2 separate regions of the Homo sapiens genome follow, and region 2 is reported to be linked to region 1. Evidence: microRNA targets listed by miRTarBase, many of them from high-throughput screens and not tested one by one. Region 1 holds a microRNA gene; the other region holds the end of a gene's coding sequence.

Region 1 (4,067 bases):
CTTCCTGAGTAGCTGGGACTACAGGCGCCCGCCACTGCGCCTGGCTAATTTTCTGTATTTTTAGTACAGATGGGGTTTCACCATGGTCTGGATCTCCTGACCTTATGATCCGCCCACCTTGGCCTCCCAAAGTGCTGGGATTACAGGCGTGAGCCACCGCGCCTGGCCTGACATGACCTCTTTTATGATGGGATTATTGCTTAGTATTTAAGGCAAAATGAAGTATAGGTAATAAAAGCAATGAGGATTGGAGCAGAGATTTATTAAATCTGACTGGCAGGGAAGGGGACATATCTATGAGATAAAAGAATGGATCTCCATAAAAATATCTTATCATTTCTCATAACTTAAAAGAGGTTTCATTTTTACTTATTTTGAATGTTAATAGAAGCTAGTTTTTGTTTCTTATTGTAGATGTGTGTTTATATTAACTCATTATTTTATAAACCAAATGCTGTACTATATTTTTATTTACTCACCACTGTACTAATTAGGGCAATATTTTTAAATTGATTTTTAAAAAATTTTCCCATGTATCCTACATGCAAATAGTGCATGGAAAATACATGTATAGTTTAAAGAACAGTAATAATATGGATACTAGTATGTCTCCACAGTAGCAATCAAATACTATTTACTTAAAACATGTAGTATGTCTCCTCCCAGAAGTAATTATAGTCTGGACTTTTGTGTAATCCTTGCTTTACTTTTCTTCAGAATTGAATTATCTATATTTATATTCCTAAGTAATTTTTATTTTACTTCGTAGTATGTCTCCTCCCAGAAGTAATTATAGTCTGGACTTTTGTGTAATCCTTGCTTTACTTTTCTTCAGAATTGAATTATCTATATTTATATTCCTAAGTAATTTTTATTTTACTTCATTTTTTTAGGGTGTTTTTTTGTTTTGTTTTTGTTTTTGAGGCAGAGTCTCGCTCTGTCACCCAGGCTGGAGTGCAGTGGTGCTATCACGACTCAAGTGACCTCCTGGGCTCAAGCGACCTTTCCATCTCAGCCTCCTAAGTAGCTGGAACTACAGGTGTGTGCCACCATGCCAGGCTATTTTTTGTAGTTTTTGTAGAGATGGGGTTTCACCCTGTTGCCCAGGCTTGTCTCAAACTCCTGGACTCAAGCAATCCAATCCATCTGCCTCAGCCTTCCAAAGTGTTAGGATTATAGGCATGAGCCACTGCACCCAGCCTGTTTTTTAGTTTTTTAAAAATTGAGTAACAAGCATAAGCCTAGTTTTATAAGAAGGCTCAGATGAAGGCTTTCTGAGAATGTTACCTGAATAGAGATTCTAAGTCATACTCTGATTTCAGATTTAGCTTCTCTGAGAGTTTACAAAAGCCCCTCTAGAGAATTCAGTTGGACAGGTCATAAGCCAGTTCTGATAAACCTAGGGGTCCACTACAGTTAGAATATCTGACACATTTGGCTGGGCATAGTAGCTCACTCCTGTAATCCCAGCACTTTTGGAGGCCAAGGCGGGCAGATTACCTGAGGTCAGGAGTTTGAGACCAGCCTGGCCAACATGGTGAAACCCTGTCTCTACTAAAAAAAAAAATACAAAAACTTTGCCGGGTGTGGTGGTGGGTGCCTGTAATCCCAGCTACTTGGGAGGCTGAGGCAGGAGAATCGCTTGAACCCAGGAGGCAGAGGTTGCAGTGAGTCAAGATCACACCATTGCACTCTAGCCTGGGTAGCAACAGCGAAACTCCATCTTAAAAAAAATAAAATAAAAAGAATATGTGACACATTCGCAGTGGATGTTATGTGGGAGTGTGCTCAGTCGTAGTAGCAGACTACTCTATATATATTCTCATTCTAGGCTTATGGTGATTTACCCCTATTTTTCACAAGTAGGTCAGAATGTTTCTGCTGGATAAAATGATGTCATTAGCTGATCTAGGTAGTGGCACATAAGACATGGAAGGGAGAGCTGGAATTTCATTGACACATAGTTGAAACAAGATAAATACAGATTTTAAAATCCAGTCTGGGTCACTCAGGCATTCAAAGACTACAGAGAGGCGGTAGCAGGTAGCTTAATGATAATAGCCTGCAGTATGACTTTCTTTGGAAATAACACTGCTGTAGTCTGGACTGGTTTCCCTCTATATCTGTTGCACAGCTATTTTCCTAGGGAGATCCCATTCTAGGGATCTCCTTTAATGTAGTTCTTGGATTTCTTTGTTTTTGGCATCTCAGGTTCCTCCCCACCCCCATACTTTCATTTTGGTGGAGCACATTCTCTAGTAGCTTCTAAAGAACAAGTGCATGAGATGGAATTTTTAGAGATTGGCTGCATTTAAATATCTGTATTTATTTTTGCAAATATCTTTATTCTATTCATAGTTTGGCTGGATTGGAAGTTTTTCCTTCAGTATTTTATTGGCAGTGTTGAATTGTTTTTTTGCTTCCAGTATTGCTTTTGTGAAGTCCAGAGCTCTTCCAATTCCTGATTCTTTGTATGTGACTTGTTTTATTCTTTATTTTTTGCTTTTCTGTCTCTGGAATCTTTTTTTTTTCTTTTCTTTTTTTGAGATGGAATCTCACTCTGTTGGCCAAGCTGGAGTGCAGTGGCACAATTTTGGCTTACTGCAGCCTCTGCCTCCTGGGTTCAAGTGTTTCTCCTGCCTCAGCCTCCCGAGTAGGTGGGATTGCAGGGGCCTGCCACCACGCCTGGCTAGTTTTTCTATTTTTAGTAGAGATGGGGTTTTGCCATTTTGGCCAGGCTGGTCTCGAACTGCTGACCTCAAGTGATCCACTCACCTCAGCCTCCCAAAGTGCTGGGATTACTGGCATGAGCCACCATGCCCTGCTAGGAATCTTGAATCTTTGTTTTTCGTATCCAGAAATTTAACTCTGAAATATATCTACACAAGGCCAAAGGAAGAGAACAGATATATCCACAGTACACTTGGCTGTTCTCTTTCTTTAGCCTTGTGTAGATATATTTTCATCCCCTGTGATGCCTACTTGCTAGACTCTTTCATTCTAGCAACTTCTGTCTTTCTGTTCTAGGCAGTTTTTTTGAATGATTTTCTTGATGATTTCCTCTCCTGCATTTTACTGTTCTCTCCTTTTTAATTTTTGTTCATTGTTACTATTTTTGAGATGAGGTGTTACTATATTGCCCAGGCTGGTCTCAAACTTCTGAGCTCAAGCGATTTTCCTGTCTCAGCCTCCCAAAGTGCTAGGATTACAGGCATGAGCTACTGTCCCAGCCCTGCCAAATTTTTTTTTTTCTTTAATTGAGACTGTGTTTCACTATGTTCAGCCCAGGCTGTTCTCACACTTCTGGGCTCAAGCAGTCCTCCTGCCTCAGCCTCCCAAGTAGTTGGGTAGCTGGGGTATAGGTGCATGACACTGCACTTGGCTGTTATCTTTCTTTGGCCAGCCATTATTTGATATTATACCTTCTGTAATATACTCTAATATGCTCACCTTTTAATTTCTTGCTTTTTATTAATTTTTTTGTCTTTTTATTTCTTTGAAATTTTATCTGCTTTGTCTTTTAATCCTTTTGTTGACTTTTTGCTGTAATGTTTAAGTTTTCAATGATTTTTTTTTTTTTTTTTTTTTTTTTGAGACTGAGTCTCACTCTGTTGCCTAGGCTGGAGTGCAGTGGCATGATCTCGGCTCACTGCAATCTCTGCCCTCCAAGTTCAAGCGATTCTCCTGCCTCAGCCTCCCGAGTAGCTGGTATTACAGGCGCCTGCCACCGCACCCAGCTAATTTTTTGTATTTTTAGTAGAGATGGGGTTTCACCATCTTGGCCAGGCTGGTCTTGAACTCCTGACCTTGTGATCCACCTGCCTCAGCCTCCCACAGTGCTGGGATTATAGGCGTGAGCCACTGCGCCCAGCCTTTCAATGAATATTTTTAAATTAAACTAGTTTAATTTTTCAAGAGCTCTGTTTTCTGTGTGTTTTGTACCACTCTGTTCTTATAGATGGATGCAATACCTTACCTTTCGGATTTTGATCTTTCAAAGGATTTTATAATTTTTGGTTTTTTCAGTTACCTCTAATTTGCTTTTTTCTGTGTTGTTGTTTTGAGCT
Region 2 (4,054 bases), not on the chromosome of region 1:
CCGCATCCGCACCATCATGAAGCACGACGGCACCAAGACCGAAAAGCTGGAGCGGCTCATGGTGCGCATCGGCGTCTTCTCCGTGCTCTACACAGTGCCCGCCACCATCGTCATCGCTTGCTACTTCTACGAGCAGGCCTTCCGCGAGCACTGGGAGCGCTCGTGGGTGAGCCAGCACTGCAAGAGCCTGGCCATCCCGTGCCCGGCGCACTACACGCCGCGCATGTCGCCCGACTTCACGGTCTACATGATCAAATACCTCATGACGCTCATCGTGGGCATCACGTCGGGCTTCTGGATCTGGTCGGGCAAGACGCTGCACTCGTGGAGGAAGTTCTACACTCGCCTCACCAACAGCCGACACGGTGAGACCACCGTGTGAGGGACGCCCCCAGGCCGGAACCGCGCGGCGCTTTCCTCCGCCCGGGGTGGGGCCCCTACAGACTCCGTATTTTATTTTTTTAAATAAAAAACGATCGAAACCATTTCACTTTTAGGTTGCTTTTTAAAAGAGAACTCTCTGCCCAACACCCCCACAAGGTTTGTAATTAAAACTGTAAATAGTCTTTGTAAATTTAATTATATATATTTTCTATTTAAAAGAAAAAAGGAGAAAAAAAAACAGGGGTGTGGGCGCCAGGACTGAAGAATGAGGTGTGTGTGTGTTGGGGAGTGTAGTTGGGGGGAGGGTTCTCTTTCTTAAGTGCCCTTCAAAACCCGCCCCACTTTTGGAGTTTTTTGGTGATATGGCAGGGCTGGGCCTGATGGGAGAGGCACCCAGCCTGAGCGCTGTTTTTGTTGGCTTTGAGTCGTTAGGAGTTTGTTCCATTCAACTAATATAAAAGCCAAATTTGTGAGCCTCCTCTCTGACGCTGGGCCTGTGGAAGCCGTTGGATATTTTTGAACAGGACTTGGATTCGTTTTGTTTCCTTCCCCCTTTTCTTTCCCTACTCATTTGTCCTGTCTTCTTCACTCACTCTTGGAAAAGTCCCAACAGAGATGAAGACGTGGAAAAAAAAATCGGGGTCGGGGTGTGCTGGTGGGGAGAGGGCAGAGATCCGGTGAGGAATGGCTTCCACCCCCTGGCCCATTCCCCTGCAGGCTGGAAGATCTTTCTCCTGTCTGGCTTCTCTTCTTTTCAATTCGCTGCACCAAGTGCTTCCAGTGGCCCAAAAATGCTTTTTGAAGTGTGTTTTGAAACAGCCCCCACCAACATACACCCCACCAGGAGTACTGATCCTGCCTCCCTTCATGTCTAGGGGAAGCATTCGCCTTTGAGCACTTGTTTGCAAATCTGGGGAGTTTGAGACCTCCTAGCATCTCTTCCCTTCTTTCCCTGCAGTCTATTCACTCCCGCAGCCAAAAATCTCTGGCGTTCAGGTTAGCAGTTTCTGGGTTGGTTTGTGTGGGTTTTTGTTGTTGTTTGGGGCTTATTTTTTTCAAAAAGTGATAAAGACGGGTGGGTTGGAGGGAGGGGACTGATGGGCTGGTGGGCTTTTTAGTTTTCCTTTGAGAAAAAGACTGGTTTATTTAAAATTTGTCCAGAAAAAAATGAAAAAAAAAAAAAAGGTGGTATCTTTGCTTTAGAAGAAGTCTCTGGATAGGCCCTTTGTGGCTGTGGGGGTGGGTTGAGTGTTTACATTACATTCTATATCACAAGATTGATAGGATGTTTAAAGCAGATGTTTCTTATCTTCCCCTGAGCCCCTACAAATAAAGTCAAGACTTTTCTTTTTTTGAGACGGAGTCTTGCTCTGTCGCCCAGGCTGGAGTGCAGTGGTGCGATCTTGGCTCACTGCAACCTCCACTGCAGCGTTTCTCCTGCCTCAGCCTCCCAAGTAGCTGGGACTACAGGCGCACGCCACCACTCCTTGCTAATTTTTGTATTTTTAGTAGACACAGGGTTTCACCATATTGGCCAGGCTGGTCTCGAACTCCTGACCTCGTTATCTGCCTGCCTCGGCCTCCTAAAGTGCTGGGATTACAGGAGTGAGCCACAGTGCCTGGCCTGTCAAGACTTCTCTTAAGTTAACTTCCTGAGAAGTGATGTCTAAAAGTATCTTTGCTGGTGTGAGAACTCCAGTTTCCAACACATATTATTTCCCTCAACTATTTGGAATATTTTAGAATTTTAATTCCAAAGGATTAGTTTGAATACAAGTATGCCACATAACTCAGTTTTCGCCATCTTCCATTTCTTAACAGTGTAAATTAAAAGCTAATAATCATAATAATAAAGTGCATTTAATTATCTTTGAGAGATCTATCCTTTTAATTGTATTTAACAGGGTTGTAACATTTTATTAGTTTAACCAAACCACACCTCCTCCTCCCCTCTCTCCCTTACCTACTTGGCTGGGGGTGGGGCAGAGAAGAGTGCTCCCAGCCCTGGACCTTGCTTTCTTAGCTAAATGGTGATGGGAGAAATGGTGCCTTACCACCCTTTGTTGGCTGTCTTCCGGACAAGGGAGAAAGTTAAGTTAGAACCCCTACTTCGAAGTGTTTGCTTGTGTTAGTTTATGTTGGGGGAGGGGAACTGGAAATGTTTGGTGGTAATTGAAGTGATATGTGGGGCTTTGTTTGGAATTGTATGAAGCCTGTGGATTTCAGCAGCGCCCCCTCCCAAAAATATATAATTTCCCCCCAAATCATCTGTGTCAGTGGCCAGTTAAACCTAGCTTTTTATCAAATGATGACAAGTGTGAGATCTCAACATGAGGTTCCCTCAATTATCAAAGAAGCAGGCGGGAGGAGGTGTCACCGCCCCCGGCTCCATTTGTTGCAGGATTCTAAAGGGACCCCGCAAAGGCTGCAGGAAAGAGTAAAATTACAAACAAATTGTGAGTGCCTCTCCTTGTAATAATGGGAAAAGCCAGAGAATCAGGTGGGATTTTCCAGTACCTGGTATTGAGCTCAGTGGGAAGAGGAGCTGGTCTCTGTTGAAGATTGGGGAGAGCCTCTCCCACCTATAAGCCACCCAAGATCTTGGCTCTGTGTGCTTTGGGTACATTTGTCCCTGGACCCTCGCACTGAGCAACCCCCTCCTCAAAGTCTCCTGCCAACATAAAGGAAGAGAGCCTGAGACACTGACAAAATAGATTATATGACTGAGGAGGAAGACAGATAATAAGACAGTTCCATCTTTTGGAAAGAACAGATCTTAGAGATACCCTTCCCCTTCTTCAGGGGGAGTAGCCAAGGGCTGAATTACCCTACTGAAAATTGTTGTGGGGGAACCCTCCTCTCCACACCCTTGTCCTGTTTCTTAAATGAAACACTCTTAGAGGAAGGGAAGCTTTAGACCACAGTTTGGGGAATTTGGGGTAAAGAGGAGAAAGCACCCTGGAGGAAGACTCAGAGGTAAACCACCTGAACTCACTGCCTCACGGGAGAGGGCACCTCAGCTCCCTTGTTCAGAAAACCCAGTTAAAAACAGGAGCTTAGAGATCTGCTTTTGGAGATTTCTAGGTCGTCCTTTGAGCAGAAAAGGGTTTCCATGTTGTAAGTGGGCTGGTCCCTCCCTCTGGAAGAGCGAGGCTTTGTGTTTGCTGGAGGGTCAGGGCCAAGAAGGAAATACACTCACCTGTGGCACCTGGGCCTGGGGCAGGTCTCAGGCCCACGCTGCTTTCTGCCTGCTCTTCTGCCCTCCCCCAGGGCAATGGTCTGGGGTTTCAAGGTCCCAGGCATTTCTCCTCCAGACTCCCCCCTCTTATTGATCAGGCTTTCCCTCCTCCCAGCCCAGACTTCCCTCCAGAAGACTTTAACGTTAGTTCCAAACTTTTTGCCCTTTAAGATTTTTTGAAGAGCTAGCTCTAGAAAAAGGCCACTAAAGTTTCTCAAGACAAAATTCTTCTGAACATCCCCAAAGAATTAAGATTAGGTTCAGCCCAGTGGGATGGGGAACTGCTTTTTGTTCCAAAATCTCTTCAGGAGGGTGGGGAGATGCTGTCCCGGGGGTGCCTGCCATGGGGTCTGAGCCGGGCGAGCCCTCCCTTCTGCAGTCTTGCTACTCACTGTACCAGGGTCCCTCCTCCTCTAGAATCACTCTTCTTAC

What was found. The annotated mature microRNA hsa-miR-4753-3p reads UUCUCUUUCUUUAGCCUUGUGU and lies in region 1 at 2,931-2,952, shown strand. An mRNA with a match to its seed (bases 2 to 7 or 8) in the 3' UTR can be bound and repressed. Matches are read on the target gene's strand: a 7mer-m8 pairs with bases 2 to 8, a 7mer-A1 pairs with bases 2 to 7 and ends in A, and an 8mer does both.
Region 2: the mRNA of FZD2 is a reported target of hsa-miR-4753-3p. Seed matches in the 3' UTR shown: 8mer at 509-516.

What each region holds. Positions count from the first base shown.
Region 1 is chr1:235,188,925-235,192,991 of GRCh38, reverse strand. It overlaps MIR4753 (microRNA 4753), which reads left to right and starts at 2,876; the gene lies at 2,876-2,958. All of the region lies in intron 19 of ARID4B (AT-rich interaction domain 4B), which reads left to right.
Region 2 is chr17:44,559,005-44,563,058 of GRCh38, forward strand. It overlaps FZD2 (frizzled class receptor 2), which reads left to right. Exons shown (of 1, transcript NM_001466.4): 1 at 1-2,258. The coding sequence ends at 382. Among named protein-coding and RNA genes, the nearest start is that of FZD2, 3.5 kb to the left of the region's middle.